Linked DNA regions of Homo sapiens. The protein of the gene in region 1 purifies or fractionates together with the protein of each later gene. This does not show direct contact. Each region holds a gene or a part of one and is shown in the gene's direction. Other genes may lie near its edges.

Region 1 (4,123 bases):
TTAAATATCAAGTTGAAAAATGGGCAAAATATTTGAACAGACACTTCACCAAATAAGTGGATATCAAATATGAATATCAAATAAGAATATAGAAAGATGCTTATCAGTAATGATTAGGAAAGTGAAAATTAAAACCATGACAAAATACCACTGCATACCCATTAGAATGGCTAAAATTCAAAATTAATAAATGTTGGGATGTGAAGGATTTCACAATTAACTGATGGGAATGTAAAATAATTTGAACACTTTGGAAAAAAAGTTTGGCAGTTTCTTAGAAATTAAACATATATCTAACATATGATCCAGCCAGTCCACTCCTAGATATTTAAGAGAAGCCAAAGCATGTGTCCACACAGAAACTTGTTGATGAGTGTTCATAGGAAACAACCCAAATGTCTATCAATAGGTGAATGGATAAACAAATAGTGCTATATCCATACAGTAGAATACTACTCAACAATAAAAGGGTAAGAACTATTGATACATGCAACAGCATGGATGAATCCCAAAATTACTATGTTGAGTGAAGCCAGGCTAAAAGAGTATATATTCCATAATTCCATTTATATAAAATTCTAGAATATGCAAACTATAAATAAGTGCTTATCTGGGAGGAGAGAGTTATGAAAAGGGCTATGAGGAAACTTTAGGGGTGATGAATATGTTTTTTGAAAAATTTTTAGCTTTGAGGGTACACGTGAAGGTTTGTTACATAGGTAAACACGTGTCACAGGAGGTTTGTTATACATGTTATTACATCACCCAGGTATTAAGCCCAGTACACAATAGTTATCTTTTCTGCTTTTCTCCCTCCTACCACCTTCCCCTCCCTCCTACCATCCAGACCCCAGTGTCTGTTGTTTCCTTCTTTGTGTTAATAAGTTCTTATCATTTAGCTCCCACTTATAAGTGAGAATGTGGTATTTGCTTTTGTTTCTGCGTTAGTTTACTAAGGATGATAGCCTCCAGTTCCCTTCATGTTCTTGCAAAAAAACATGATCTCATTCTTTTTTATGGCTGCTGATGGATATCTTAATTGTGATGGTGGTTTTACTACATCATATGGCAGAAAATAAAATGACACACTTTAAATTTATGTAGTTTATAGTATGTCAGTTTTATCTCAAGCTGTCTAAAAAAAAAAGAATGACTTGAATAAAAGAAATATTTGCCTAAGTAGCAGCAGTTCTTTTCCTTTTTTAAAATCCAGTATATTTAAATTTCGTACATATCTTAAAATAGCATGTGTAACATCAATTTTTAAAATATCCTTTTTTCTGTTTTTATCATGTATCATTTTAAATAGAATATTTTTTTAAAAGCCTAGCCCTGAAAGCAGGGAATGAGAGGAATGAAAGTAGCTACTTGTACAGTTAGGTTGGAGGGAATTTTTTTAAAATATGGGAAGAGTTTTAATATGTTTCTTGGCTTAGGCACATGAACTGGCAAAGAGGGAGAAACTGCAGATACAGAAGATAAAGGGAGTGGGATAGGAGCAGAGTCCTTGATGGTCTAGGAGGAGAATGGGATCCAGGGCACAGATAAGGCTACTCATCAGACTAGATGGAAAAAATGAGGGCTAATACACATATGGATACACCCTGGGACCAAAGGATGACTGTGTTTGTCCCCAAACCACATTATTTTTAGTGAAAAAAGGAAAGTATACAATTGAGAAGAGGAGGGTAGGAATGAGAGGCTTGCAGTGAATTATTAGAAGTTTAGATTGGTTACGTTTGGGAAGAGAAGAATCTGACCAGGGACATACAAAAGGATTATCGAGGAAAGCTTCTGTTGTAAAGGGGAAACCTTTAAAGAAAATCAGAATTTTATTAAAACAAAAATAAGCTCACATTATACTGTTGTTCTGCAGCTTGCTGCTTTCACTTCATAATGTGTCTCAGAGATCTTTTCACGTCAGTACAAGTGGACCTCTCGCTTTTTTTATTATCTGTGTATTAGTATTTCATATATGGATGTACCATAATTTATGTAGCATTTTAAGTTGTTTCCAACTTGGCACTATTAAATAATTGCTGTTGTGAACATCCTTGTATGTATCTACAAGGTGGGAGATGCTTTTGCACATGTAAAACTGTTTCTGATGCTTGATAACCTAGAAGTAGAATAATTTTGTCAGAGATTATGAACATTTTACATTTTGTTGGACATTTCAAACTGCCATCCAGAATGGTTATACTGATATAATCACATGAATTGAGTTAATTCATTTCCTGTACTATCATCAGAAAATGTTATTTCTTTTTATTTTTGTCAATTCTATGGCCAAAAAGTACCTTCTTTTAAATTTGCAATTCTTCATGTTAGTGAAGATGAGCATTTTTATCATATGCTTATAGGCCATTTCTATTTCTTAGGTGAACTGCTCATTCTTATCCTTTGTCACTTTTTACTAGGTTGCCTTCCTTACTGATTTGTAGGAGTTCTTTAAATGTTATGGACCCCTTGTCTATAACATATGTGCAGGTATTTTCTTTCAGGCTTTTAATTCTACAGGTTTCAAATTTTGCTATGGTTAAATCTTTCGTTCTTTTCCTTGATGCTTGCTGGATATTGAGTTTCACTTAGAAATGCCTTCCCGACTTCAAGATTATGTAGATTTCCCCCTAAAACTTGTATAGTTGGGTTTTGTTTACATATTTTATCACTTTAATCAACTCGAAATTAATATATGTGAGTGATGTGAGGTAGGGTACTATCATTTTAGAGTTAGTACCAAAAATAAATATTTTAAGGCAAAATATTTTTAGGTAAGTAATTCTGGAAAGATAATAGAGGTAACTTTTGTCCCCATAAGCGATAACTTCTTAGAAGTAAAGAAAACACTTGCATATGTTTCTATTTGTGAAGCAGATACATATTGTGAAGTTCATTGTAACAGGGCAGATTTGTAGCCTGTTAATATTCTCGTTACTTAAGACCATTAACTTTTCCATCTAATAAAATTATTAGAAGCATAGATTTGTGTTTCAGCATATGACAAACATCAGGCAGATAGATGTCTGATAGCAGTCAGTGCTTGTAGGTATTCTAGTTGATAGTAATGACAAATCTTTTAAAAAGTAGATGATTAACTACAGTGATGAAGATACACAGAAAGACGATGAGAAACAGCATGAGCAGATAGAAAAGGAAAGAAATAGAAAAAAAACAACAAATCACTGAAGAGACAAAAAAGAGAAATTAACACTTTCCTCATGAGGGTTTTTTTTTTTTTTTTTTTTTTTTTGAGGCAGAGTCTCACTCTTTCGCCAGGCTGGAATGCAGTGGTGCGATCTCACTCACTGCAACCTCCACCTCCCAGGTTCAAGCAATTCTCCTGCCTCAGCCTCCCAAGTAGCTGGGATTACAGGCACGCGCCACTACGCCCAGCTAATTTTTGTATTTTTAGTAGAGATGGGGTTTCGCCATGTTGGCCAGGCTAGTCTCAAACTCCTGACCTCAGGTGATCCGCCCACCTCGACCTCCCAAAGTGCTGGGATTACAGGCGTGAGCCACCGCGCCTGGCCCATGAGGGGAGGTTTTATGTTGTTTCAGGCAACCTTAAAAATTATCTCAGGCCTCATAATAATAGTAGTATGGTTTTGTTTTTGTTTTGTTTATTTAGTTTTTGTCTTTTGGGGATGAGATGGACTTCTGCTGTCTTAGTGGGTTTATGTTTTATCTTTTTTGATAGGCTATCACATGTATACTATTAAATTGGCTTGGTATGCTTGCATTCATAGTTCTTCATTATTTCTTTAGGCAGTTGAGAATTTTGAACCAGCAACTCAGAGAACAACAGAAAACTCAAAAACCATCTGGTGCTGTGGATTGCAACCTTGAATGTAGGTAAAAGAACTTTAAGGATTGATAAATTATTTGTGGCTCCGGAAATGTTGATAAAGAATTGAGCTTTTGTAATTACTTTGAGGGGATAAATTTAAAATATTGTAGAAACATAAGAAAATAAAAGATGCTGTCACTTCCCAATAATATACACCTTTTTTTGTTTGTTTGTTTTGAAATACAGGAGTGTGTTTCCTTTTACATATCTTCTCTTCATATATAATTGATTTATTTAACACTTACTGAATACCTACTGTGTGCCAGGCACAAA
Region 2 (4,123 bases), on another chromosome or scaffold:
TGTCCGGCTAATTTTTGTATTTTTAGTAGAGAAGGGGTTTTGCCATGTTGGCCAGGCTGATCTCAAACTCCTGGCCTCAAGTGATCTGCCCGCGTTGGCCTCCCAAAGTGCTGGGATTACAGGCATGAGCCACTGCGCCCGGCCTCTGAGCCCCTCTTCTGTACCTTTGTGCTGGGTGGTGCTGGGGACATAGTGGTGACCAAGACTATCTTGGCACTGCCCTCCTGGGACTCTGAGTCCAGGGAGGGAGGCAGATGTGTTTGCAGACAGTGAAGGCTCTGGGTGGGGTACCTGACCCTGCCTGGTACGGGAGGGGTGTTCTTGGCAAAGGGAGCAGCATGTGCAAAGGTTGGGGGGAGGTCGAGCTCTATGTAGGCGAATCCACCTTCATGGGGTGCACCTTTTGTGCTAGCCCCTCCCTGCCACTCACGTAGTGCCCAGCCCTGGGGGAGATGGGTGCTAAGTATATAACCACTTGAGTATATCATTACAGATGGAGATGAGTAGGGCAGGAAAGGGAGCCTGTGCTGTGGGAGGCTGTCACAGGACTCCACTGGGGTGTAGGGTGGGTCAGGCCCAGGGGCTGGGGAAGTGTTGTAGGCAGAGGGAACAGCCTGGGCAAAGTCCTTGTGTTAGGTGGGAATGCGGTGAGAACAAGGGAATGAATGAAGTGAAAGAAGCAAAGGCCTTTGGCATATATATTCATGCCTGCCTTGTGCTTGGTTCTGTTGGGGAGACGAATCTGGGGCTTGATCGCTACCGGGAAGAGGCCTGGCTCGTTGGGGAGGACTAATAATATTTTTAGTAATAATGTTACCAGTAACTAATGTTTATTGAACATTTAACTGTATGCCAGGGCTGCTCTGTGCTTTATGATTAAATTCATTTTATCCTCACAGCCACCCTACAAGGTAGGCACTGCTATTATCACCGTTTGACAGAGGCCCAGAGAAGTTAGGGAACTTGGCGCAGGTCACACAGTGGGTAATATGGCTAGGCTGGACCTTAGATCCAGGCAGCCAGCGCCGAGCCTCTGTTGTTTCCCCAGCTGTTTGCACTGTTGGTGGCTGCAAGCCCAGGACAGAGCGCTAAGTGCTGACCCGGAGGACCAGTCCTTATGGGAGCTCATGGGGCTGGGGAACCCCGCCGGTCTTTGGAGGAGCTCGCCTGTGTACGGCTGGGCCGAGGAAGGCCGCAGTGGGGAGGCCAAAATTTATCCTCAGGATCTGCTCTCAGGCTGTGTGTGTGTGTATGTGTGTGTGTGTGTGTGTGTGCGCGCGCGTTTGCTCTGTCTCAGGCTGTGTGTGTGTGTTTCTAGGTTTGTGTTTCTGGGTGTGTGTTTCCCAAGATGGCCACAAGGGGGCGCCCTCCACCCTTTGGAACCAACCACAGGAGCCTTGAGATCCCACCGCTGCTCAGTGGCTTCTTATCTTCCTCTTCCCAGCCAGGAATTAGGGAGTTTGGGAAGGTTCTGAGATTTATTCATTCATTGAGCCAACATTTATGGAGTTCATACTGTGCCAGGCACACTGCCTGACGCTAGTTAATGTTTATTATGCTAGACATGGTCTAAGCACTGTGGATAGATTCTTACAGCCTAACAGGCGGGCATTCTTATTATCGTCCCTCTTCACAGATGAGAAAAGATGGCCTGAGGCTCAGAGATGTGAAGTGAAACTGCCCAGGGCCACCCAGCTTGTTAACAAGTGGAATAGAGTTGAATGCAGGGCGCCCGGCCACGCAGCCTGGGGTCCTGTGCAGTGAACCAGACAGGTGGAGGCTCTGCCCCCAGAAAGGTGGGATCCACATGGGAAACGGACACTCCTCTACATGCCAGGTCTGCCAGGGCTGGTGCTAGGAAGGAAAGGTATAGAGGGCTGGGAGAGCGGAGAACGTCAGGGGCAGGTAGGCTTCCCGGATGAGTGGAGTCGTTCTTGCCAGGAGAAGAGGGAGAGAAGGTTCTGGGAGGTGAGAACTGCATCTGGCTGGAGCCTGTGGGAGAGGGAGGCAGGAGGAGAGGAGGGGAGAAGTCAGATGGGCAGGGGCTGAATAGAAAGGAAAGCTCCTTGTTAGAGAGTGTGGGGAACCACGGATTTTAAGAAGGATTTATTAGGAAAAATTCCAGCACCACAAAAGTAAACAGTAGTATAATTTGCACGTACTTGTCCCCCAGCTTCAACAGTTACCCACGTTTGCCCATCTTGTTTGATGTACTGCCACCCCCTGCCCTGTAGCAAATCCCAGTCTTCGTGTCTCCTCTGTAAAAGCATCAGTGTGTATCTTTAACACATAAGGATATAAGTGCTGCCATCACATCCAACAAAATTCACAAAAATTCCAGGATGTCATCTGAAACCCACTGCGTATGCGTTCACACTTACACTTCTCTGATCACCTCTCAAATGTCTTTTTTGCAAGTGGTTTGAATTCGTCCTGTATCTAAATACGGCTGCACATTGCAGTTTGTCGAGGTCTTTCTTTTCTTTTCTTTCTTTCTTTTTTTTTTTTTCAGTCTTGCTCTGTTGCCCAGGCTGGAGTGTGGTGGTACGATCTTGGCTCGCTGTGTCCTTACCTCCTGGGCTCAAGCGATTCTCCCACCTCAGCTTCCTGAGTAGCTGGGACTACAGGCACATGCCATCATGCCCAGCTAATTTTCATATTTTTTTATAGAGACAGGGTTTGCCTGTGTTGCCCAGGCTGATCTTGAACTTCTGAATTCAAGCCATCCACCTGCCTTGGCCCCCCAAAGTGCTGAGATTACAGGCACGAGCCACTGAGCTTGGCTGATGTATTTCTTAAATCTCTTTTAATTTATATCCCCCTCTCCACTTTTCATGCTACTTATTTGTGGAAGAAATCAGGTTATTTGTCCTGTAGAGTTTTGCAGTCTAGATTTTGCTGAATTTTTCCCTAGCAAGCATACTCAGATGGAAAAATGAAAAATAGATTTTGCTGATTATATCGCCATGGTGTGTTTAATGTCCTTCTCTGTCCCCTGTACTTGCAGTGAAGTGGTGGCTAACCCTATATAGGTTTAATCACATGTGGGGTAGGTTTTGGCAAGATGCCTCCTTTGGTGGTGTTGAGACTGATGATTTCAGCTGTTGAGAGCTGGCTCCCTCTTTTATAAAGTTCTCTTCGGCCTTTCAACCAATGCAGTGGTTCACTCTGGATATGCACTCAAATTGCCCGGGAGCTTTGAAAAATCTCAGTGCCCTGGCTGCCCTGTACATTCACCATTTCTTTTTCTTTTTTTGAGACCGAGTCTCGCACTGTCACCCAGGCTGGAGTGCAATGGCGTGATCTCTGCTCACTGCAACCTCTGCCTCCTGGGTTCAAGCGATTCTCCTGCCTCAGCCTCCTGAGCAGCTGGGATTACAGGTGTGTGCCACCACACCCGGCTGATTTTTGCATTTTTAGTAGAGACGGGGTTTCACCGTGTTGGCCAGGCTGATCTCGAACTCTCGACCTGTCTCAAGTGATCCACCTGTCTCAGACTCCCAGAGTGTTGGAATTACAGGTGTAAGCCACCGTGCCTGGCCTATTTTTCTTTTTTTAAAAATTTTGTGAGCAGTGAGGAGTTCCAGGGCAGGCCCTGACTCCTCCAGACACACCACTTACACCTGAATCTCTGGGATGGGACCCGTCCCTCCTGCCCAAGAGTCCCACTGCTTCCACTACTTAACTTTCTTGTTGTGAAAAATAATATACTCCAAAGAGTATAAAATATAAATGTACGGTTTCACAAATTATCATAAAGCCAGCGTACATGTAACAACTACCCAGGTTAAAAAATTGAGGCTGGGCTCAGTGGCTCACGCCTATAATCCCAGCACTTTGGGAGGCCGAGGCGGGTGGAACACCTGAGGTCAGGAGTTCAAGACCAGCCTGGCCAACATGATGAAACCCTGTCTCTACTAAAAATACAAAAATTTAGCTGGGCAGGGTGGCGCATGCCTGTAGCCCCAGCTACTCGGGAGGCTGAGACAGGAGAATCACTTGAACCCAGGAGGCAGAGGTTGCAGTGAGCCGAGATCACGCCACTGCACTCCAGCCTGGGTGACAGAGGGAGACTCTATGTGGAAAAAAAAAAAAGGAGAAAAAAATCAAAAGTAGTCATTTC
Region 3 (4,868 bases), on another chromosome or scaffold:
CTTTTCCTTGGCACTCTGCCCTTGTGTCCTGTGACCAGCCCTGTGTGGGGCTGGAGTCCAGGGTGACCATCAGGCCCTGGGTGGGCGATGGGGTGCCTGGGACCTGGCTCAGCCCGACTGCCCTCCTCCCACAGCCTGGCAGCAGGTGCAACAGCAGCTGGATGGTGGCCCAGCCGGTGAGGGCGGGCCAAGGCCTGTGCAGTACGTGGAGAGGACCCCCAATCCCCGGCTGCAGAGTGAGCCCCCCAACCCTGTCCCCCCAGGAGAGACCCCCCAGCCCCTCTGATCCTGACCCAGGCCCTGCCAGGTTCCCACCCCAGGGGATGAGGGAGGGGACTCTTGTGCAGAAACCCCTTCTTCCCAGCGCCTGCCGCACTCGGAGTCCGGGTGAGCGGCTTGTGGTTAGCTCCAGGGGAGACTTGCCGGCTGGCCTGGGAGGCAGCATCACTGCCCAGCCTTCTCTGCCCACAGACTTTGTGCCCATTGACCTAGACGAGTGGTGGGCGCAGCAGTTCCTGGCGAGAATCACCAGCTGTTCCTAGTGGCTGCTGGGAGGGGGCGCTGCTACACGGCCGACCTGTCGCCAGGAGAGAAGCATGGCGCCCTGCCCACCCACTGCGCCTGGCTGGGTGCCGGCCACACCTGAAGTGCCAGCATTTGGACTTTTGCACCTTTTTTTCCCTTGGCCCGGCTGTCCCAACCAAGCTGCCATGGCCAAGGGCCGAACCCGTCTGACCTCAGCCCTGCTCACTGTGCCCAGGGACCAGCGACCAGCCCCTGGGGCTGGCAGGGAGGAGCTCCAGGCTAATAAAGTGGAGAAACTGTCTTTTTGGAGTGTCTTTGACTTGGGAGGGTGTAGGGGGGGTTCTCATGTCCAGTTCCAGTCCACAGCCTGGGACGCCAGGCCCAGCACAAACTCCCCTTGTAGCCCTGTTCCTTCAAGCCGTTAGCTTCTCACCCAGCTGCCCTGCGACAGGTAGGAGGGACGTTAGCCAGCCCACCTTGCTTGGAAGTCTGGGGACCCCACTTGGTTCCTCTTTCCTCTCCCGTTGGCGTTGACTGGGACCGAAGCCGAGACTCAAGGCCTAAAGACATTAAATGGCCCCGGAGTGCAGTCCACCACCCCCCACTACCGGCACTGGGGCTGTGTCTCAGAACGCCAGGTCCCATTCTGAATCCGCCGGGCCCGGCCGCAGGACACTGGGCGAAGGAGTACGTGGGGAACCTGATAGGACGAACGTGGGAACCAGCCCCTCCGCGGGCGCCCGCACTACCTTCCCTGATGGACGGGGATGACCCAGCCCACCTGAGTCAGGACCCAGGGTACCCAGGTGTGGAGCAGGGGCCTCTGGACGGCGAGAGAGCGGCAGGGTGAGGCCCGGCCGTCCGTGGCATGGCCAGGCCTCAGCGCGACCTCGCCTCGCTGCTTGCATGCGGCGGGAGCCCCGGCCGGCCGAGGCGCTGACAGGTGGGCGCGGCGGAGGATCCGCAACCGGCGCGGGCTTCGAAGCCGGTCGGGCTAACAGGGGGCTGCCTTGGGAGGCCCGCGGGGCAAAGGGCAGCGGGATTCGCGGCTGGAGCAACCCTGGAGGCCGCTGACGTGAGCGGGGTACTCCCACCGGGGAGGTCACGTGGCCAGGGCGCCGCCATGACGGCGGAAGTAATGGCGGAAGTGGCACCGTTGCCAGGCAGCCGTTGCCTGGCGTCGCGGGGCGTACTCTGCGCTGGGCGCGCGGAGGCCTAGGCGGGAAGCTCGAGCGGCGGCGCCATGGCCCGAGGTAGCGCGCGGCTGGCGGGGGTCCCGAGGATCCCGGGTTCCGGGGTTCCGGGGTCCAGGGTCGGCGGCCGGAGCGCTCAGGGCCCCCGCCTAGGCCCTGAGGCCAGAGTCCCCGCTCAGGCAGGGTCCCGTCTGCCGGGCGCCCACCCTCGGGCTCCCGGAGCTTGGCTTCCCTCGGGCGCCCGGCCTCGTCCCGCCAGCCTAGCTGGCGTTGGCGTCGCCGGGGAAGGCGCGGAGAGCCCCGGCTCCTGCCTGGTCCCCGAGGCCCGGCCCAGCCCCGCAGTGGCCCCGGCTCGCGTGGCCGAGTCCCCTGACGCCCGGCGCCCGCTCCCCGCAGCGTGGCAGCACCCGTTCCTCAACGTCTTCAGACACTTCCGGGTGGACGAGTGGAAGCGCTCCGCCAAGCAGGGGGACGTGGCCGTGGTCACGGTAGGCGGCCGGGGGCTCGCCCGGAGCCCACACCCCTGCCCTGCCCCCAGGAGAGCTGCCCCGCCCCCGAGGGCCCCCTCGCCCCCGCTGCACTTCTTCTGGGTGCTGTCGGTGATGCGGGCTCCCGCTTCTCCAGGACAAGACCCTGAAGGGCGCCGTGTATCGCATTCGGGGCTCAGTCTCTGCCGCCAACTACATCCAGCTCCCTAAGAGCAGCACCCAGTCTCTGGGGCTGACGGGACGATACCTGTATGTGCTCTTTCGGCCCCTGCCCAGCAAGCACTTCGTCATCCACCTCGATGTGTCCTCCAAGGTACGGAGCCCGCGGCTGGGGGCTGCGTGGGAGCCCCGGCACCCCTGCGGCCCCTGTCTCCTCACGGCCCTGCTCCGTCCCCACAGGACAACCAAGTCATCCGTGTGTCTTTCTCCAACCTCTTCAAGGAGTTTAAGTCTACGGCCACGTGGCTCCAGTTTCCCTTGGTCCTGGAGGCCAGGACACCTCAGAGAGGTGACACCAAGATGGGGTGTGGATGATCCAGGACAGGTGGCTGGAGGGAGTTGGTGCAGGCCCAGTGAGGCTCCTCTGCGGCCTGGAGGACAACCTGGCGGGGGCACAAGCTCACAGTTCTGGGAGTCGCGGGCTGTCAGGAGGGTGGGCGCTGACCCTGAGTGCCCATCCTGCAGATCTGGTGGGTTTGGCCCCCTCCGGAGCCCGCTGGACCTGCCTGCAGCTCGATCTGCAGGACGTTCTCCTGGTCTACCTGAACCGGTGCTACGGCCATCTCAAGAGCATCAGGCTGTGCGCCAGCCTGCTGGTCAGGAACCTGTACACCAGTGACCTGTGCTTTGAGCCTGGTGAGGGCCGCACCTGCACTCCCCACTCCATATCTCACCCATGCTCTCAGCCCTGGAGAGGCCCAAGTCCAGGGTGCTTGGGAAAATACAGTGCTCGAGCTGTGCTGTCTCTGAGCTCTGGCCAGAACCCATCCCAGAGGCAGCCCTGGGGTCAGAACCCATCCCAGAGGCAGCCCTGGGGTGGGGCGGTGGCTGGGCTGGTGGCGTGGCAGTGCCTTGGCGGGTGCCCTGTGTTCAGGTGGCTAAACAGCCTCCCTTGACCTGGAACAACCCTGCTCCTTGTAGCCATCTCTGGGGCCCAGTGGGCAAAGCTGCCCGTGACTCCTATGCCTCGGGAAATGGCATTCCCTGTGCCCAAGGGAGAGAGCTGGCATGACCGCTACATCCACGTCCGGTGAGTGGTTCTGCTTCTTTCGAGGGAGGCCTCGGTGGTGGGAGGGTGGGTGGCCCTTGGGCCCCCAGACACTGACTCTCCCTCTGCCTGCCAAGGTTTCCAAGTGAGAGCTTGAAAGTGCCTTCCAAGCCGATTGAGAAGAGCTGTTCCCCTCCTGAGGCAGGTGGGTCTGGGGGGTCAGCGGGGACCCAGGTTAAGGCCTGTAGGGTGCGTGGGGCTCGGTAGGAGAGGGCAGGGCTGGGAAAGGACCCAGTGGTGTGCTGGCTGCAGCTGGTGCAGGGACCCAGGGAAGCCCGTAGGTTGTCCGAGTTCCCAGAACCACGAGGGTGGGAAGTCTGTGTGAGGGGTACCCGGGGGCCCCAAGCTTTCTAGCTGGAAGAGGAGACTTTCAGGGCCTAGGGTGGAAGTGGGGATACTGGCTGTGGGTCCTGCAGAGCCGGTGAGGCTGGGCCACTTGCTGCTGCCCTCCCCAGGCGTCACCCTCACCAGGCATCTGCACAGCTGGCCCCTGGGTCACTGGGGTTCTTTGCTCTGTTCTAGTCCTCCTGGGGCCGGGGCCACAGCCTCTCCCTTGCCCGGTGGCCTCCAGCAAACCTGTGCGGTTCAGTGTGTCTCCAGTGGTCCAGACGCCCAGCCCCACAGCCGTGAGTACCCCCTTCGCCCTATGAGATGGGGTTGGGGTGTGATGGCCCAGGACGCTGATGGGCACTTGTCCCCCAGCAGTCCGGCCGGGCCGCCTTGGCACCCAGGCCCTTCCCGGAGGTCAGCCTGTCCCAAGAGCGCTCAGACGCCTCCAACGCGGATGGCCCCGGTTTCCATAGCCTTGAGCCCTGGGCCCAGCTGGAGGCCTCTGACATCCACACGGCTGCTGCCGGCACCCACGTGTTGACTCACGAGTCGGCTGAGGTGCCCGTGGCCCGCACCGGCTCCTGCGAAGTGAGTGCCCATCCCACAGCAGGCGGGGCCTGGTGAGGTGTGGGCTGGGGCAGCTGGTAGCCCGCCCCGAGATGCATTCAGAACGGATGTGCCTCCAACGGTCTCCTCTTGTTCAGCCTCCTGGCAAGGAGCAGAGCTGGCGGGAGGCGGCTTTGGGGAAGAATCTCTGTCCACAAAGAGTAAGGCAGGGCTTCTGCTCACCCCCAATGCGTCAGCCCCAGGTGGTCTGTGGGGGACCCTCGAAGGTCTGGCAGTGCAACTGGAGTCCCAGCTTCCACCTTACCACAGCCAGCAGGAGCCACCCAGGACCAGGGCAGTCTTCTTGAGAGGCAGGACCCAGCTAGGGGTTGGCGGGGCTCGGAGTTGGTCGGGCATTCTGGGGACCTGGCTGAGCCTCCCAGGACTTTGATGCGAATGGCTGTTTCAGGGCTTCCTCCCAGACCCAGTCCTGAGGCTCAAGGGCGTCATCGGCTTTGG
Region 4 (4,123 bases), on another chromosome or scaffold:
AATTGGAGCAGCAATCCATTGTTTATAAATGCTAAGGCATAGTGGTGCCAGCTGGTAGCTAGTGCTAGATTGACAGAGAACTTTGGATAGTTTCCAGAGTTCCTGTCTGAGACTTTGTAGTTTAGGCTGCCTGTTTTTTTCTGTACTTGCTGATTTAGAAATATAGTGGAAAAATTAAGGTTGGAAGAGATCATAGGAATCACCTGGCTTCATGCCCACATTTTACAGGTGTTAAAGATGAAGAAGCAAGCAAGCCACAAAAAAATCCTTCCTGCTAAAAAAGGTACCCTATCAGCACCGTTTCTCACAAGTGGGTACTGTCACCAAGTCAAAGAACAAGAACAATAAGCATCCACATGCCATTTCTAGAAAACGGGGAATAAACTAGGTATGCTGTTCTTTGCTTTCTTCACTAGAAAGCAGTTGGCAGCTTGTCCCAAGTCTAAAGACTGCCTCACTCCTAAGATTGGGAGCCTTACAGACTGTGCATTCAGAGTGTGGATCTTTTTATGTTTTTTTTTTTTTTTTTTTTTTTTTATTGAGACGGAGTCTTGCTCTGTTGCCAGGCTGGAGTGTAGTGGCACGATCTTGGTTCACTGCAACCTCCGCCTCCCAGGTTCAACTGATTCTTCTGCCTCAGCCTCCCGAGTAGCTGGGACTACAGGTGCGGGCCACCACACCCAGCTAATTTTTGTATTTTTAGTAGAGACGGGGTTTCACCATGTTGGCCAGGATGGTCTCGATCTCTTGACCTCGTGATCTGTCTGCCTCGGCCTCCCAAAGTGCTGGGATTACAGGCGTGAGCCACCGTGTCCGGCCCGAGTGTGGATCTTTTTAAAGTTGGATTGGGAGGGGCTGACTTGGCCCTGAGATTTGTGGTATGACCTTTGTTAAGGGATGTGGTTATGTGAGTTTTTAAGAGTCGAGTGAATCTTGGCCAAGTGGATTGTATTGCATTTAAGGAATTATCAGTTTAAGTTCCCAAATAATTGAATTCAAGGTATCCAATATATACAACTTTGCTGAAATGCGATTAGGGAGGCAAACAGTAGAAAGAATACAGATGTTAGGTTCAAATACCTCATCCCTTACTTAACCAGCTATATGACCTTAGGCAGGTTACTTAACCTTTCTGAGACAGTTTTCCTGCAGTTCATAGTATGGGCAGGGGGATTAAGTGAGATATGAGAGCTCTTAGTTTAAATCCTGGCACATAGTAGGGACTCAGTTCATTTAATTTTATTTCTCTTCCTACCTCCCTGCCCTAATGAGGGTGAAGGTTTTTCTGATCTGTGAGTAAATATTCATCAGCCTAAAATTAAGCTGAGATTTCCTGAGGATAGGGAAAGAGAATAAAGTCAGAGGTCTTTTTCTCCCCTGTGGTTTTATACTGGAGGAAAATATATATTGTTCCATTTAGCATGGGCTTCCTTTAAAATATGTGATTTTAATTGGGATACTTGTATTAATTTAGAGTTCCTAGTTCAGAGTCTTAGGATGCATCATCAAATTGGCTTGAAAATGGACTATAGCGTGTAAAAGGAGTATGTAAATTATTGTGAACTCATCAGTTAGGATTCTTTATGTGTGCAAAGGATTACAACATAATCCAAATGGTCCTAAGTAATAAAGAGAATACTTTCACTCATATTCAGGCATATCTTGATTCTGAAAATCCCACTTTATCTCTTCAGTCAACCTCCTGCTGACTTTCTCCTTCACCAACAGCTACAGGCTCTTCTTTCAAGGTCACAAAATGGTTGTTGCCCTTCCAGACTTCTCATTCTCATCCTATACCATCAAGAGGAAGACAGGCTATCATCTGTAGCCATTATAGAAGAGAAAGAAACCATTGCTTTCTCACAGAGTCCAGAACATGTCTCCTTAAACTTATGGGCTCCAATTGGTTTATGTGCCTATCTCTGAACCACTAATTATACTGGATGATGAAGTATCTTGATTGGCTGAAACCAATCAAGGCCCATCCCTGAACCAGGGATAGAGTTAATTTTAAACACACAGCTAAGAATGGGAGATGTGATTTCCCACAGGATATTTGGGATTTGTATTCCAGAAGGAAGGGGAAACTTGCTAAGCAACAAACCATAGTAATCTGCATCAGCAGTTAGTTCAGGTTTTGAGCTGTAAATTAATGAAGGCTTTTTTGTCGTTATAGGGATCATCCATGCATCATGTGGACTGGAGGCTGCAGGAGAATTCCAGTTTTGGTATTCCATGCCGACGCTATTCTTACAAAGGACAACAATATTAGAGTAATTGGAGGTGCGTATAACCTCTCCCACAGAGGACGGAGCTGGGCATGGCCCAGACGTCCTTGTCTTAAAGAAGTTGATATGACATATATATAGGGAAAGGGCCTTGGCCATGAGAAAAATCAATTGAGTTGTTATACTTCAAACATTATAATTTCTTAAATTGTTTTCTGCTTATGTTTTTCCTCTGATTTTTTTTCAAGAATATTGTGTACATGTGTTTTTTTTTTAATTGTGGTAAAATACACCTAACAAAATTTACCATTTTAACCATTTTAGAGTGTACAAGTCGTTGTTGTTTAGTACATTCACAATGTTGTGCAGCCGTCACCACTGTTTAGTTCCAGAACATTTTCATCATCTCCAAAGTACAGCCAATACCCATTAAGCAGATATCCCCAGCCCCCATACCACCAGTCCCTGGCAACCACTCATCTATTTTCTGTTTTTATAGATTCCCATATTCTGGATGTTTTATATAAATGGAGTCATGTGATATGTGACCTTTTTTGGCAGGCTTCTTTTCACTTAGCATAATGTTTTTGAGGTTCATCCATGTTGGAGTATATATCAGTCCTTTATTCCTTTTTATAGCTGAATAACATTCCATTGTATATGCTAATGAATGCATTCCAATGATACACCACATTTTGTTTATCCAGTCATCAGTTGATGTACATTTTTTTTGTTTCCACCTTTTTTTTTAATTTTGTTTTTAAAATTTATTTATTTTTTAGATACAGGATCTCACTGTGTTGCCTATGTTGGTCTCAAACTCCTGGCCTTAAGCAATCCTGCCTTGGTTACATGCATAATCCACTGTGTCTGGCCTTTTTCCACCTTTTGTCTGTTGTGAATTGTGCTGCTATGAATGTTCACGGAAAAGTCGTTTGGACACTTAATCTTCAGTTCTTTGGGGTATACCTAGGAATGGAATTGCTAGGCCATATGGTAATTCTGTGTTTAACTTATTCCGTGTCAAACTGTTTTCCATAGCAGCTGTACCGTTTTACATTCCCGTCAACAACGTATAGGGGTTCCAGTTTCTCCACATCCTCACTAACATTTGATATTTTCTGTTTCTTAGATCATAGCCATACCAGTGAATGTGATGTGGTATCTGGCTGTGGTTTTGATTTGCATTTCCCTAATGAGTAATTTGAATATCTTTTTATGTACTTTTTGGCCATTTGTGTATTTTCTTTGGAGAAAGGCCTATTCAAGTCCTTTGTACATTTTAAAAATTGGGTTTTCTTTATTGTTGTTGAATTATAAGAGTTTTATATGTTATGGATATTAGACAAGATATATGATTTACAAATATTCTTACTCTGTGAATTGTCTTTCATTTTCTTGTTAGTGTTCTTTCATGAGCAAAAGTTTTTTGTTTTGATGACATCCAGTTTATCTAATTTTTCTTTTGTTGCTTATATTCTTTGTGTCATATCTAAGAAACCATTGCCTAACCCAAGGTCATGATCCCTGTGCTTTTTTCTAAGAGTTTTATGGTTTAAGCTCTTATATTTAGGGCTCAATAGTCTTTGATCCATTTTGAGTTAAATTTTTCATGTAGGGTTATGTAAGGGTTCACCTTCATTCTTTTGCATTTGGATATCCAGTTGTCTCAGCAAAATTAGTTGAAGAGACTATTCTTTTCCCCACTGGATGGTCTTGGCACTATTGTTGAAAATCAGTAGACCATAGGTGTATGGGTTTACTTATGGACTTTTAATATTTCATTGAACTATACATTTATCCTTATGGTAGTAACATACTCTTGATTACCGTACCTTTGTATTAAGTTTTGAAATTGCGGATTGTAAGTCCTCTAATATAGTTCTTTTTCAAGA
Region 5 (4,883 bases), on another chromosome or scaffold:
GAGACAGCCCAAACTAGCTTAGCTGCAGACAGGTTAAGCTAGAGAAGTTAAGAAAATCATTCAGCAGATTCATCTTTGCTTCCGATAAAAAAAGGTTGTTTGGTTAATGGTGTGGGATAGAAATGTTGTGAAATAATCTGTTTCAGGTTAGGCACTGTATCTTAAATTTAAGATTCTAAGTTTCCTAAATAATAATGCAAACATTGATACATGTAGTTTATCTCCATCTCAAAACCAATAAATAAAAATAAGAGCTGCAGTTGCTTCCTCTGCAATAGGTCATTACAAGTTGTCTGATCTCTCAGAGCCACCCCTTGATAACAACATAAAGTTTAAAAACCTGCATTAGTATTTTTTTTGAGAATTTGCTTTTCTGATCAAGAGTTTGAACTTTTCAAATACCACGACCATATAATTTTTTTAACATCATTTTTCTGTTGTAGAACAACATAGAGACTAGGAATGGAAAGATTTAAGGTTTCCTTGTCTGCAAAAGTGGATAATATTAGTACTTACCTGTAACAGGTTGATTGGTGGCCCCCCAAAATATATGTCAACATACTAATCCCAAAATCCGTGACTGTTACCTTACTTGGAAAAAGGGTCTTTGCAGATGTAATCAAGTTAAGGATTTTGAGATGAAAAGATCATCCTGTATTCCTGTATTATTCATATGGACCCAATGACAAGTTTCCTTATAAGAGAAAAACAGAGGGAGATTTGAAACAGACAGAAGAGGAAAAGATACATCCAGGAGGAGAAAGACGTGTGAAGATGGAAGCGGAGAATGGAGCGATGCGATCACAAGCAGAGAACGCCAGCAACTCCCAGAAACTGGAATAGACAAGTAAGGGAATCTTGCTTAGAGCCTGAAAGGAGGCTGCAGACACTTTGATTTCCGATGTATGGCCTCAAGAACTTCCCAAGAATACATTTCTGTTTTTTTATGTCACCAAGTTTGTGGTAATTTGTGAGGGCAGCCTCAGGAAATTAATGCACAACCTCATAGAGCACTAAAAATGGAGATAATTAGTACTACCTAACTTGTAAATTTGCTACGAGGATTAATTGAGTTGATATATTCGGTATAGTAGAAAAGTGCCCCATACCTAGTAAGCGCTCCGGAGGCACTAAGTGAATTTTTATCAAAGGAACGCTAAAGTCGAGGCAGCCAGTTGTTGATATTATTGCTTTTCTGGACCATGATTGGTGGACTGGACATCATAATGCTGGAAGGCCTGTCAGATTACGAAACTGAAGAAACGAAACAAAACCATGAGGATGGTGAAAAGGTCAGGAAGAATGAACTATTTCATCTGTAAGTTTCATTTGAGCCCGAACGTTCTATGAAAGGAACCCATCAGTTCTCAATGTATTTGTCTCCTTGCTTCTCTGCACTTGTTTCCTTGCTTCTCTTAGTTATTTCTATACAATTCCTTAATCCCTAAAAGCAATTTAGAACGGAATGCAGGGACCACAGGAGAAAATGAGTTTTATTGCCTCTGATGGGAGCCTAAAACCCCACGAGGCTCCCAAAGGGCGGAATTCCCAAGCCAATTCCTCGCGTCTATGATCCACCTGCAAAAAACTACGATTCCCAGAAGGCTTTGGGTCCGGGGGCGGGAAGACTGAGCTCAGAAAGAGGTGGACTCTAAGAGAAGGTCTTTGGTCGATTACATTGTCCAGAGAGGGAGTGGCCGCTTGGGCGGATTTTGGGAGGGATCAGCCTTCCAATTGGTTGTTATTAGAAAGGGGGTTGGTACGGCCTGCTGGTGCTGGACCTAGGCCGCCGCGGCCGGAGCTCAAATTTCCCGGGCCGGGAGCGCTGGGCCTGCCGGGAAGGCGCTGGGACGGTTACCCAGCGGGCCGCCGGCGGTCGTGGGCAAGCTTCGCCATGCAGAGCACTGACCTAGGCAACAAGGAGAGCGGCAAGATATGGCACCGCAAGCCGTCCCCGGCCACGCGGGACGGGTAAAGGCCGTGGCGGGAGGGCGCGGGCTGTGGAGGGGATGGAGACCGGCGAGGAGGGGACGCCGGGCGTCAGGCAGCGTTCCGGGTTCTGGCTCTGACCTTGCCCCGCATCCCTGGGTTGGATGACCTGCGGTGGAACAGATGGCTCCGGACGCCAGGGTCCGCAGAGATCCCCTTCTGAGTTCTGGGAGCGGGGGTCTGGTCCGGGACAGCGCGGAGCAGGAGGAGGCCGGTGGTTCTCAGACCTGGGAACTTGCGGCTTTTGCTGTGTACCGGGACTCTCCTGCTTTTATGATCACGGTATCCCGCTAGTGTCCCTGGCACGTAGTAGGTGCTCAGTGAGTATTTAACAGTTGCAGCTGGAGCAGAACTCCAGGAGGAGATGCGGGGTGGAAGAGCAGGACAATTCTGCCTCTTCCAAAGGCTGCAGTTTATCCATCCTTAAATCCTTGGATGTGTTTAGACGCACAAGCATTCATCAACTATTTGTTGAGCTCCTACTGTGTGCCAAGCACGCCTCTAAGCGCTGGGGACGGCGATGGAACAAAACACACTTCCGGTTCTCTGGAGTTTACATATCGGCGTGTATGTAGGGGCTGGGGCGTTCATTATGCATTGCTGGGGGGCTTCTAGTACGGCCAGCGCTGCTTTTCATTCTGTTCCCAGTTACCTGTCCTGTTTGAGGCTCAGCCTGTCTTGTTTCCCTGGAAGCCTTTGCTACAAAGCGGTGCCATTTGGATTTCGATTTCTGCACGCAGAGTGATCTTATTGCTCCTAATTCCCTAGGATTTCACGGAAATTGCTTGAGTTCCTGTTTCAGTGTGTTTCTTGTTCTAGCAGTGATTTTTCTTTTCTTTGAGACGGAGTCTTGCTCTGTCGCCTGGGCTGGGGTGCAGTGGCGCGACCTCGGCTCACTGCATCCTCCACCTCCCGAGTTAAAGCGATTCTCTTGCCTCAGCCTCCTAAGTAGCTGGGATTACTGGCGCGCGCCACTACGCCCGGCTAATTTTTGTATTTTTAGTAGAGACGGGGTTTCACCATGTTGGCCAGGCTGGTCTTGAACTCCTGGCCTCAGGTGATCCGCCTGTCTCAGTCTCCCAACGTGCAGGGATTACAGGCCTGAGCCACCGCGCCCGGCCTCTAGTGATTTTTCTATTGATCCTTTGGTTGCTTCTTGACAAATCAGAATTTTTTTTTTCTCTTGAGACAGAGTCTTGCTCTGTTGCCCAGGGTCGGATGCAGTGGCGCGATCTCGGCTCACTGCAACCTCCGCCTCCCGGGTTCAAGCGATTCTCCTGCCGCAGCCTCCTGAGTAGCTGGGATTACAGGCGCACCACTCCCGGCTAATTTTTTGTATTTTTAGTAGAGACGGACCGTGTTAGCCAGGATGGTCTTGATCTCCTGATGTCGTGATCCACCCACCTTGGCCTCCCGAAGTACTGGGATTACAGGCGTAAGCCACCGCGCCTGGCCGACAAATCAGTTTTAAGTGCCTACTCTGTATATCCAAAGTGCGATGCGAGACGTTTTACCAGCAGCTTGTTTGGTTCCTGGTTACTGTCAGGCCTCTTTATCAATGCCGCTGCCTCAACTACATTGAATAAAAAATTTTCTCTAAAGTGGGGATTCCTCAAGTTTTTCATTTTCAAATTCTGAGTTTGTGTGAATACCACTCCCACCTCTGGTATTCTCTAAACATTCTAAAAGTTATAGCCCACTCGCCTTCTCTTTCTTGATGATACAAAATATCTAGATATATGTGCAAGATTCAAAAAGTGAAAGAAATGGGTTGATTATCCAAATGTCTTGTTTGCTTCTTCCACTAAAGCATAGCTTATCTTTGTGTTCGTTAAAACCCATTGTTCATGCTGTTTAGACGGGCAGAGAGCACTGACTTGGAGTCAGATGTATTTTGTTGAAGTAAATGTCCGTTTACCAACTCTGTGACCTTGGGGAAGTTAATCACTAAGGCTGTCAGTGGGGAGAATCAGATTTACCAGACAGGTTGTCTTACACATTTGGTGCTCAGTAAATATTTGATATTCTTCTTGTGTTTGAGAACTGAGGAACTCTGTCAGGCAATCTGTGAGAATCTGAAAGGAAGTTGCTCTAAAATAAATTTTTTACGTGTGATTTATATGAAAAATCGGAGGGGCAGAATGTCACTATTGTGATTACATCTACATGGTAGGATTATAATTGAGTATTTGTTTCTTAGTGTATTTCTATATTTTTCATATTTTGAACAATGATTGTGTAATTTTGTAGCCAGAACATGTAATAAGTGTTCTAGAAAATAAGACTGGAGGAAAAAGTTGTTTGCTCTGAGTTTAGTTGCCATGAAACATTTTGATATTGCTTGTCATTTCTGTATGTTTATTTTTGTGTTTTTAATTCCTTGGGGACTAGATAAAAATAAGCATTGTTAAGAATTTTGCTATTTCCTTTAGTGAGTCTAAAAAGCCTTATGTTTAGATACACATGGAGAAAATGTTTAATCCACTTAATTCAATTTAGTATACTTTAATGAAATTATAATGAAGATAGATGTTTCTAATATAAAATCCAAAAACTAGGCAAGGTGCAGTGGCTCACGCCTGTAATTCCAGCACTTTGGGAGGCCAAGGTGGGAGGATCACGAGGTCAAAAGTTTGAGACCAGCCTGGCCAACATGGTGAAACCTTGTCTCTACTAAAAATACAAAAAATTAGCTGGGCATGGTAGCGTGCACCTGTAATCCCAGCTACTCAGGAGGCTGAGGCAGGAGAATCACTTGAACCCAGGAGGTGGAGATTGCAGTGAGCCGAGATTGCACCACTGCACTCTAGCCTGGGTGACAGAGCGAGACTCCATCTCAAAAAAAAAAATAAAACAAAATCCAAAAATTTATGAAAAATCAATTAAGATAAAAT
Region 6 (4,123 bases), on another chromosome or scaffold:
CTTGAACCCAGGAGGCAGAGGTTACAGTGAGCCAAGATCACGCCACTGCGCTCCAGCCTAGCGACAGAGCAAGACTCCGTCTCAAAAAAAAAAAAATAGTTTTTACACAGTCTCTTTAAATGCATCTGGTTCAGAAAGACATCTGGCCGACAGCCCTTACCAGCTTCACCTAGCATCCCAGTAAAATTTCTGGAAGCCAGAAAAACTATGAGTAGCAGATAGGTCAGGCATCCTAGTGCCAAAATTTGGATAGAACTCTTAGCTAACAAAATAGCTCCTGGTAAGATAAAATTTTTTTAAAAATTGGTGTCTTCTAATTAAGTAACAGAAAACATGTAGGAAGATATTGTGTACTTAACCGTTGTCTGTCCCCTGACTCAGACCTATGGTCTTATCCTACCATATCTATGCTCAGGGGGTGCTAAGCTGTTGAATGGCCTTGGTACTTTTCCTCCTAGATTCTAGTCACCCATTCTTCCCACTGCTAATTTTCCTTTCAGAGATAATGATATCTGTTATGCGTGTCTGTGTGAAGAGACCACCAAACAGGCTTTGTGTGAGGAACAAGGCTGTTTATTCACTTGGGTGCAAGTGGGTTGAGTCCGAAAAGAGAGTCAGTGAAGGGAGATAGGAGAGGGGCAGCTTTATAGGGCTTGAGTAGGCAGTGGAAAGTTACAGTTAAAGGTGGTTATTTATTGTTAGCAGGGGAGGGGGTCCCAAGGTGCATGGTGGAGAGATCTTGGGACTCATTGTCCAGAAGAAGAATGTCACAAGGTCGATTGATCAGTTGGGGCAGGGCAGAACAAGTCATAATGGTGGAATGTCGTAAGGTTGGTCAGTCAGTTAAGGCAGGAGCTGTTTCACTTCTGTGGTTTTTTAGCTGGCTCCTGCAGGCCATCTGGACGTATATATGCAGGTTACGGGGGTTACAATGGCTGAGCTTCGGCTCAGAGGCCTGACAATATCCAGAAAATGATGTGCACAAAATTTGGATGAGGGAAGAAAATTTGGACATCGGCCCTTTGCTTTTTGGAAGTAAAAATTCTTATCTGCAATTGGCAAAAGAATAAGACATATACATCAATGGGGACAGAATTAGGAAGTCCAGAAATACATCCACACAAATATAGTCAATTGATTTTTTTTTTAACAAAGGTGCAAAGGCAATTCAATAGAGGAAAGATAGTCTTTTCAACAAGTGGTGCTGTAACAGTTGGATATTCATATGCGCAAAAATGAACCTAGACACAGATCTTATTTATTATACCTTACACAAAAACTAACTCAAAATGAACCATAGACCTAAATGTAAAATGCAAAACTATAAAACTTCCAGATGAGAACAGTAGAAAGTCTGTGATCTTGGGTTTCGTGATGAGATGTAACACCAAGAGCAAGATACATGAAAGAAAAAAGTAGATCAGTTAGACTTTATTAAAATTAAAAACATCTCTGTGAAAGACACTGTTCTTTTTGTTTTGTTTTTGAGACGGAGTTTCACTCTGCCACCCAGGCTGGAGTGCAGTGGCGTGACCTCGGCTCACTGCAGCCTCTGCCTCCTGGGTTCAAGTGATTCTCCTGTCTCAGCCTCCTGAGTAGCTGGAACTACAGGCGCCTGCCACCACGCCTGGCTAATTTTTTTGTGTTTTCAATAGAGATGGGGTTCACCATGTTGATCAGGCTGGTCTCGATCCCCTGACCTCAGGTGATCGCCTGCCTCAGCCTCCCAGAGTGCTGGGATGACAAGCGTGAGCCACTGTACCCTGCCAAAAGACGCTGTTAAGAGAATGAAAGACCCAGTGTCGAAACCCATAGAGCTTTACGTCATCAAGAGTGAACCTTAATGTTTGCAAATTTAGGTCAGGTGATCCCAGGATGGTATGCAGACTGTGACAAAATCTAATCCCCTTCCTGAAGGGAGTGGGGGTGGGGGAAAAGGTGCTGAGCTAACTACTGTTTTTAGTTCCAAGAAACTAAACATTTCTTAAGTAATTTATGCTTGTGGTTTAAAACAGTTTCAAACTATTCAGAAGGATATAAAGTGAAAGCAAAGTAGCAGTTTCTGCCCATGTTCTCTAATCTCACGCTCCACTGATAACTAGAATTAACAGTTTCACTCCACTGATAACTAGAATTAACAGTTTCTTGTTTATCTTCTAGAATTGTTTGAGGTTAAAACTATGTATTTGTAATTAAAACACAATCAATTGGGATTATATCGTAGATACTGTATGCAATTTGCTTTTTTTAATCCACCAATGTATCTTTCTGTAGCAGTATAGACTAATTATTTTTAAATAATGTATTTAACCCCCTATTGATGGAGATCTGGTTGTTTTATTGTTTGCTTTTTGCCATTACAGGTAACCTATGTGCAGTGTGCACCCTTTGTGCCCTTGTGAAAGTATACCTGTGTAAATTCATAGAAGTGGAATGACTAGATTAAAGGGCACATGCATTTCGAATATATATAAGCACTGACAAATTTCTCTTCCAAGTGAATGAGTATAGCTATATATCCACTCCCTTGCCAACACTTAGCATTATACAAGTTTTAATCTTAGCAGTGTTATAGGGAAAATAATGGTTTCTCTGTTGTATTAATTTGCATTTATGATTTTGTTCATGTTTATTCAGCATCTAAAAATTGTGTTCATCTTTGACAATGTAGTTTTTTCTGCAAACTACCCATGTTTTTCCCCATTTTTCTGATTTTTTTTTTTTAAACTGATTTGTAAGAGTTCTTTGATGTTATGAAAATGTCATCACTTTAGTCTTGGTTATGCCTCCATATTATTGCAACTATTTTTCCCAGTGTGTTATTTTTTTATTTTATGCCATATGTAAGTTTTCAGTTTTTATGTAGTTAGATTGATAAATATTTCTCCTTATTCCTTCCAGGTTCTGTATCATGCTTGGGAAGGCCTTTTCTCAGATTTATTAAAAGATATGACTGGGCACAGTGGCTCATGCTTGTGATCCCAGCACTTTGGGAGGCCCAGGCAGGAGGATTGCTTGAGGCCATGAGTTTGAGACTAGCCTGGGCAACATAGCAAGACCCTGTTTATACAAAAAGTAAAATTAGCTGGGCGTGGTGGGTGGTGGTGTGCACCTCTAGTCCCAGCTACTTGGGAGACTGATGTAGGAGGATTGCTTGAGCCCAGGAGGTCGAGGCCGCAGTGAGCCATGATTACACCACTGCACTCCAGCCTGGGTGACAGAGCAAGACTTTTGTCTCTAAAAAAAAGGAAAGATATATAATGTAAAAAATGATAATGTCCTAAAACTAAGATTGTAAAAACAGTGACTGAGCAGTGGTTGAAAGTTCTGAAACAAAACTGTATGCATATGTTTTTTAGGTTTTCTTATGCATTTTTTAAAAGAATTGGCAGAATATCATCAAGCTAAAGAGAGTTGTAATATGGAAACTCAGACAAGTTCGACATTTAACAGAGATTCTCTGGGTAATTATAGCCTTCTTTCTTAATTTCAGTTCTGCTGTTTTCATTTTGAATGAAGGAAATTATCTGATTTACCATATTGTGTGATTGCTCCTTGAACTGGAGGGATGCAGCCGGCAGGCAACAAGGGAATTCATTTCTGGAATCATCTTGGGGGACCAGGAAGTGCTCTCCAGTGTCATTCCCTAGCCTCATGAATGCCAGGGCTACACTGGCCAAATCATGCAGGGATTCAAAGGCCCATATTCTTCCTTGTTTGTTGAGTTTGACTTCTCTTAACTGGGAGGTTCTTCCTCGTGTCTTGTCTAACTTTACAGCCACCCAGTTAGAAGATTATAAACTACTTGCTTTGCAAAGTACTAGAGAAGTCAGTGACTTATCACTTCATTTTATAGTTGAGGAAACCGAGGTCCTCAGAGGAAGAGCAACTTGGAAACACTCAGTCTGCATCAGAACTAATAGTGGAGTCCAAGTTCTCCCATCCATGATCTGGAGCTTTTTGTACTATCCAGCTGGTCTGCAGTACCATCCTGTCTGTCAGTTTCGTGCTCAGTAGAGATGGGAAATAGCTGTTTAAAACGATATGCTTAATGGATTTCTTGGCCCTTCCTTACTCTTAAATGGTAACTTGCAAGAAGATAAGTTCATAATTCATAAAATGT
Region 7 (4,123 bases), on another chromosome or scaffold:
CAGCAAACTGGAAAGTGAAGTAAGCTTGGAATTAGCTTGGTATATATGTTAATTTTTGAACTAGAACAAAAGGTATTATTTTAGGGTTTTATAAAAATTATATGTTTACATCCAGATTTAAAGTTTTTAAAAAATGGTACCACATAAGTTATAAATTGTTTTAAAATTATATTTGGAAACCTTTGTATTTTAACTTATTAAAAGTTAAAGTTATTAAAAGTAGGAAAAACTGTAGTGGGTAAAAGTCTCAAATTTGGTGGAAATAATATTGCATTGCAGCCTATTATTTCTTCCATAGTATAAGTTAATATGGTTAATATACATTTATAAATAAAGACTTTGGATTATGCTGTTGGAAGAAAAGGAGTGATAATAAAGGATTTCAAATTTTAGCAAACCCCAAACCACCTAGGAAGCCTGTTTAATATGCATATTTCTGGGTCCTGTTCCAGCAATTTCTGATTCAGTATATATGGGCACAAGAGTCTGCTTTTTTCTTTTCTTTTTCTTTTTTTTTTTTTTTCTTAGAGACAGGGTCTTGCTCTGTTGCCCAGTCTGGAGTGTGGTGGTGTGATCATAGCTCACTGTAGCTTTGAACTTCTAGGCTCAAGCCATTCTCCTGCCTCAGTCTTCCAAGTATTTGAGACTGCAGGCATGTGTCACTATGTCCAGCTAAGTTTTTTTATTTTTTATTTGTAGAGACAGTCGCTGTGTTGCCCAGGCTTGCCTCGAACTCCTGGTTTCAGGTGATCCCCACCTCAGTATCCCAAAATGCTGGGATTACTGGTGTGAGCCACCACACCTAGCCGGAATCTGTATTTTTATTTTTTGTGTATTTCTGCTGTTTAAAGAGTCTGTATTTTTAAACAACTGCATGTAAACCTGAAACAACTACGCAAGGAATTACATTCTGAAAAGGGGATAATGAGTGTTTTGTGAATATCTTGTCTTCATTTTCACTGAGGACAGGATAAGGGTGCCTCATTAGGTAATTGTGGACCAGGACCACATGTGTATATCTTATACTCGATCTTCAAACCAGAGGCTGCAGTCATCTATAGGTACACTTTTTAAATACCTGCTTTCTCAGCTTAAAGTCTATAGCCAAGGCTGAGGAAAAAGAACTATAAGATAGGAACTTATGTTAATAATGAAGATGGAGATTTAGACAGTTTATAACTATGGCTACCAGTTTACTTAGGAAATTGCCAAATACTGGGATTAATAAGTTTTTTAAATTACAAAAATAGCACAGTCTTGTTAATATAAAAGGGGAAAAAGAAGAAAATGAACCATTGATAATTCTACCACCAGAAATAACTGCTGATAACATTTTATTGTACTTATTTCAGTCTTTAACAGCTACGTAAAAATAGATTAGGGTATTGTCCTTTTTGGATATAGGGGTCTGAATTAAATGACTTATGTTTTACATAGATAGAAGAAGTGATCCTTTGTTTTCAGTATTTGTTTTTCTTCTTAATTGTCACTTATTTTGTAAAATACTTATAATTATGTGGGTTAAAAAGTTATTCACTTTGCATCCTAAATGTTTATAACTGTAAGTTTGCCCAATTTACCTAGACACAATGTATTTGAACTTTGAAAGAGGAGCAGGTGTTTGATCTTAGAATGCAAAATCATTACCTTTAAAAAATAATTTTACATTTATTTCAATGTGTTTTCAGATGACAAAGAAATGTTCTCAACTTTTAACTCTTGAGAAACAGCTGGAAGAAAAGATAGTTGCTTATTCCTCTATTGCTGCAAAAAATGCAGAACTAGAACAGGAGCTTATGGTAAAACTTATCTTTGTTCCTACAAATTTACTGTGATTTTTAGGCACTTAATTTGTGACAGCACATTTGTTTTAGCATCATTATTATAAAATATATAGGAAAGTATAAATTCTACTAAACTCTTCTGATCATTTCTTGTTTATATTTTTAAGTTAATAGGCTTATATGGCAAGTTATCCAAGTTTTCTCTTTTTTTTTTTTTTTTTGAGACAGAGTCTCACTCCGTCGCCCAGGCTGGAGTGCAGTGGTGTGATCTCGGCTCACTGCAAGCTCTGCCTCCTGGGTTCACGCCATTCTCCTGCCTCAGCCTCCCGAGTAGCTGGGACTACAGGCGCCCGCCACCACGCCTGGCTAATTTTTTTTGTATTTTCAGTAGAGACAGGTTTCACCGTGTTAGCCAGGATGGTCTCATCTCCTGACCTCGTGATCCACCCGCCTCAGCCTTCCAAAGTGTTGGGATTACAGGCGTGAGCCACCGCACCCGGCCGTTTTCTCATTTTTATCCTAATAGGATTGAAGATAATGGTAGTTCTTTGATATGCTTCTTGATATTTAAAATAGTTTAAATCTTCTCGTCTTGATAAAGTATTTTTAGCCATTTTGTTAAAGTTTGAAGTATAAACTACTGTGGTTCTTTAAAGAATGGAGTATGACATATTTAATGGTTGACTAATGTACTTTTATGTAAAACTGCTTTTCAATTATACTTTTTTTTTGAGACAAAGTCTCACTCTGTGGTTCAGGCTGCAGTGCAGTGGCACAATCATGGCTCACTACAGCCGTGTCCTCCCAGGCTTCCCCCTGAGCGTCCCCAGAAGCTATGACCACAGGCGCATGCCACCACATCTACTTAGCTAATTTTTTGTATTTTTCATAGAGACGGGGTCTTGCCGTGTTTCCCAGGCTAGTCTTGAACTCCTGGATTCAAGCGATCTGCCTGCCTTGGCCTCCCAAATCAATTATACTCCTTTAAAGTGTTTTGTGTTTCTAGGAAAAGAATGAAAAGATAAGGAGTCTAGAAACCAATATTAATACAGAGCATGAGAAAATTTGTTTAGCCTTTGAAAAAGCAAAGAAAATTCACTTGGAACAGCATAAAGAAATGGAAAAGCAGATTGAAAGAGTAAGTAATACATATTTAGAATATGAGTGCTGAAAAGAAACTTAAACATTACTAGCCCCAGCATTTTTTATTTTGTAGACGAGGACACAAAGATACACAAAAGTTAGTGGCAAGAGCTGTAATTAGAATCCCAATCTTTCTGAATAATTTTTCAGTGCTTTAACAGAATATAGTATGCCTTCTGTTTCAGCTGTAATCATTATTTTTGACATTATTAAAGTAAGAGTAATTCTGTAGACTCCATTTCCCTAAAAATATCAGTTGCTTGAAGATTGATTGAGAGGAAAAAGCAGAATAAGAGAAGCACTCTTGACCTTGGGTTAAAAGTAGAAAAGAAAATTTGAGACCAAAAATGCAAGACACAGTAAAAAAAAATAGATACAGTAGTCCCTGCTTATCCATGGGAGAGACATTCCAAGACCTTCAGTGAATGCCTGAAACCACAGATAGTACTGAACCTTATATATTTTTTCCTATACATACATACCTATTATAAAGCTTAATTTATAAATTAGACACAGTAAGAGATTAGCAAGAATTCTAATAAAATCGACCAATTGTAACAAAATACTGTCATAAAAGTTATGTGAAAACTTGTTCTCATAAAAGTGTGTTCTCTCTCTTATGCCCTAGTGCCTCCTTTGCACTTTTTTTTTTTGAGATAGAGTCTCGCTCTGTCGGCCAGGCTGGAGTGCAATGGTGTGATCTCAGCTCACTGCAGTCTCCGCCTTCTGGGTTCAAGTGATTCTCCTGCCTCAGCCTCCTGAGTAGCTGGGATTACAGGTGCGCGCCACCAAGCCTGGCTAATTTTTGTATTTTTAGTAGAGATGGGGTTTCACCATGTTGGTCAGGCTGATGTCAAACTCCTGACCTCGTGATCTGCCTGGCTCAGCCTCCCAATGTGCCTGGCTCACGCAGAGGTGTGAGCCACTGCGCCCAGCCTCCTTTGCACTTTTATGAATGTAGGTTCTGTGAGTCATCTTTGAGAACAGCCTAGTTTCGCTGCAATTGAAGTCTTGCTTTGGATGGTATCTTTTCTCCTTAGCTTCTTCATCTCTGCTGGAAATGTGACAGCAGCTGCTTCATCAGCAGACACAGCTTCTCCAATAATTTTAATATTTTTCAGTCTAACCCTATTATTGAATCTGTGTAATCATCCCTTATTTGCAGTAAATGACTTGGTGTCACTTGTTTCAGGGGA

Evidence for each region.
Region 2: the proteins of CCDC14 (region 1) and CCDC61 purify together in Homo sapiens (affinity purification with mass spectrometry; one large-scale study listed by BioGRID and IntAct). This does not show direct contact.
Region 3: the proteins of CCDC14 (region 1) and WDR90 purify together in Homo sapiens (affinity purification with mass spectrometry; one large-scale study listed by BioGRID and IntAct). This does not show direct contact.
Region 4: the proteins of CCDC14 (region 1) and TTLL5 purify together in Homo sapiens (affinity purification with mass spectrometry; one large-scale study listed by BioGRID and IntAct). This does not show direct contact.
Region 5: the proteins of CCDC14 (region 1) and TBC1D31 purify together in Homo sapiens (affinity purification with mass spectrometry, with the first as the bait; one large-scale study listed by BioGRID). This does not show direct contact.
Region 6: the proteins of CCDC14 (region 1) and OFD1 purify together in Homo sapiens (affinity purification with mass spectrometry; one large-scale study listed by BioGRID and IntAct). This does not show direct contact.
Region 7: the proteins of CCDC14 (region 1) and CCDC18 purify together in Homo sapiens (affinity purification with mass spectrometry; one large-scale study listed by BioGRID and IntAct). This does not show direct contact.

The regions. Positions count from the first base shown.
Region 1 is NC_000003.12:123,933,401-123,937,523, reverse strand, and holds part of CCDC14 (coiled-coil domain-containing protein 14), read left to right. Parts: intron 1-3,768; coding exon 3,769-3,851; intron 3,852-4,123. UniProt on the Homo sapiens protein: Negatively regulates centriole duplication. Negatively regulates CEP63 and CDK2 centrosomal localization.
Region 2 is NC_000019.10:46,008,565-46,012,687, forward strand, and holds part of CCDC61 (centrosomal protein CCDC61), read left to right. Parts: intron 1-4,123. UniProt on the Homo sapiens protein: Microtubule-binding centrosomal protein required for centriole cohesion, independently of the centrosome-associated protein/CEP250 and rootletin/CROCC linker.
Region 3 is NC_000016.10:647,649-652,516, forward strand, and holds the start of WDR90 (WD repeat-containing protein 90), read left to right. Parts: upstream 1-1,716; 5' UTR 1,717-1,768; coding exon 1,769-1,778; intron 1,779-2,114; coding exon 2,115-2,206; intron 2,207-2,342; coding exon 2,343-2,519; intron 2,520-2,605; coding exon 2,606-2,714; intron 2,715-2,890; coding exon 2,891-3,061; intron 3,062-3,346; coding exon 3,347-3,455; intron 3,456-3,550; coding exon 3,551-3,618; intron 3,619-3,995; coding exon 3,996-4,099; intron 4,100-4,175; coding exon of another isoform or gene 4,176-4,178; coding exon 4,179-4,391; intron 4,392-4,818; coding exon 4,819-4,868. Other genes in the region: MCRIP2 (MAPK regulated corepressor interacting protein 2), read left to right, coding at 135-236, 472-542. UniProt on the Homo sapiens protein: Microtubule-binding protein that plays a crucial role in ensuring inner core protein localization within the centriole core, as well as in maintaining the microtubule wall integrity and the overall centriole roundness and stability.
Region 4 is NC_000014.9:75,667,240-75,671,362, forward strand, and holds part of TTLL5 (tubulin polyglutamylase TTLL5), read left to right. Parts: intron 1-2,176; coding exon 2,177-2,283; intron 2,284-4,123. UniProt on the Homo sapiens protein: Polyglutamylase which modifies tubulin, generating polyglutamate side chains on the gamma-carboxyl group of specific glutamate residues within the C-terminal tail of tubulin.
Region 5 is NC_000008.11:123,070,876-123,075,758, forward strand, and holds the start of TBC1D31 (TBC1 domain family member 31), read left to right. Parts: upstream 1-1,831; 5' UTR 1,832-1,894; coding exon 1,895-1,971; intron 1,972-2,373; exon of another isoform or gene 2,374-2,509; coding exon of another isoform or gene 2,510-2,556; intron 2,557-4,883. UniProt on the Homo sapiens protein: Molecular adapter which is involved in cilium biogenesis. Part of a functional complex including OFD1 a centriolar protein involved in cilium assembly.
Region 6 is NC_000023.11:13,741,056-13,745,178, forward strand, and holds part of OFD1 (centriole and centriolar satellite protein OFD1), read left to right. Parts: intron 1-3,359; coding exon 3,360-3,464; intron 3,465-4,123. UniProt on the Homo sapiens protein: Component of the centrioles controlling mother and daughter centrioles length. Recruits to the centriole IFT88 and centriole distal appendage-specific proteins including CEP164. Involved in the biogenesis of the cilium, a centriole-associated function.
Region 7 is NC_000001.11:93,214,948-93,219,070, forward strand, and holds part of CCDC18 (coiled-coil domain-containing protein 18), read left to right. Parts: coding exon 1-19; intron 20-1,688; coding exon 1,689-1,799; intron 1,800-2,790; coding exon 2,791-2,922; intron 2,923-3,555; coding exon of another isoform or gene 3,556-3,582; exon of another isoform or gene 3,583-3,705; intron 3,706-4,123.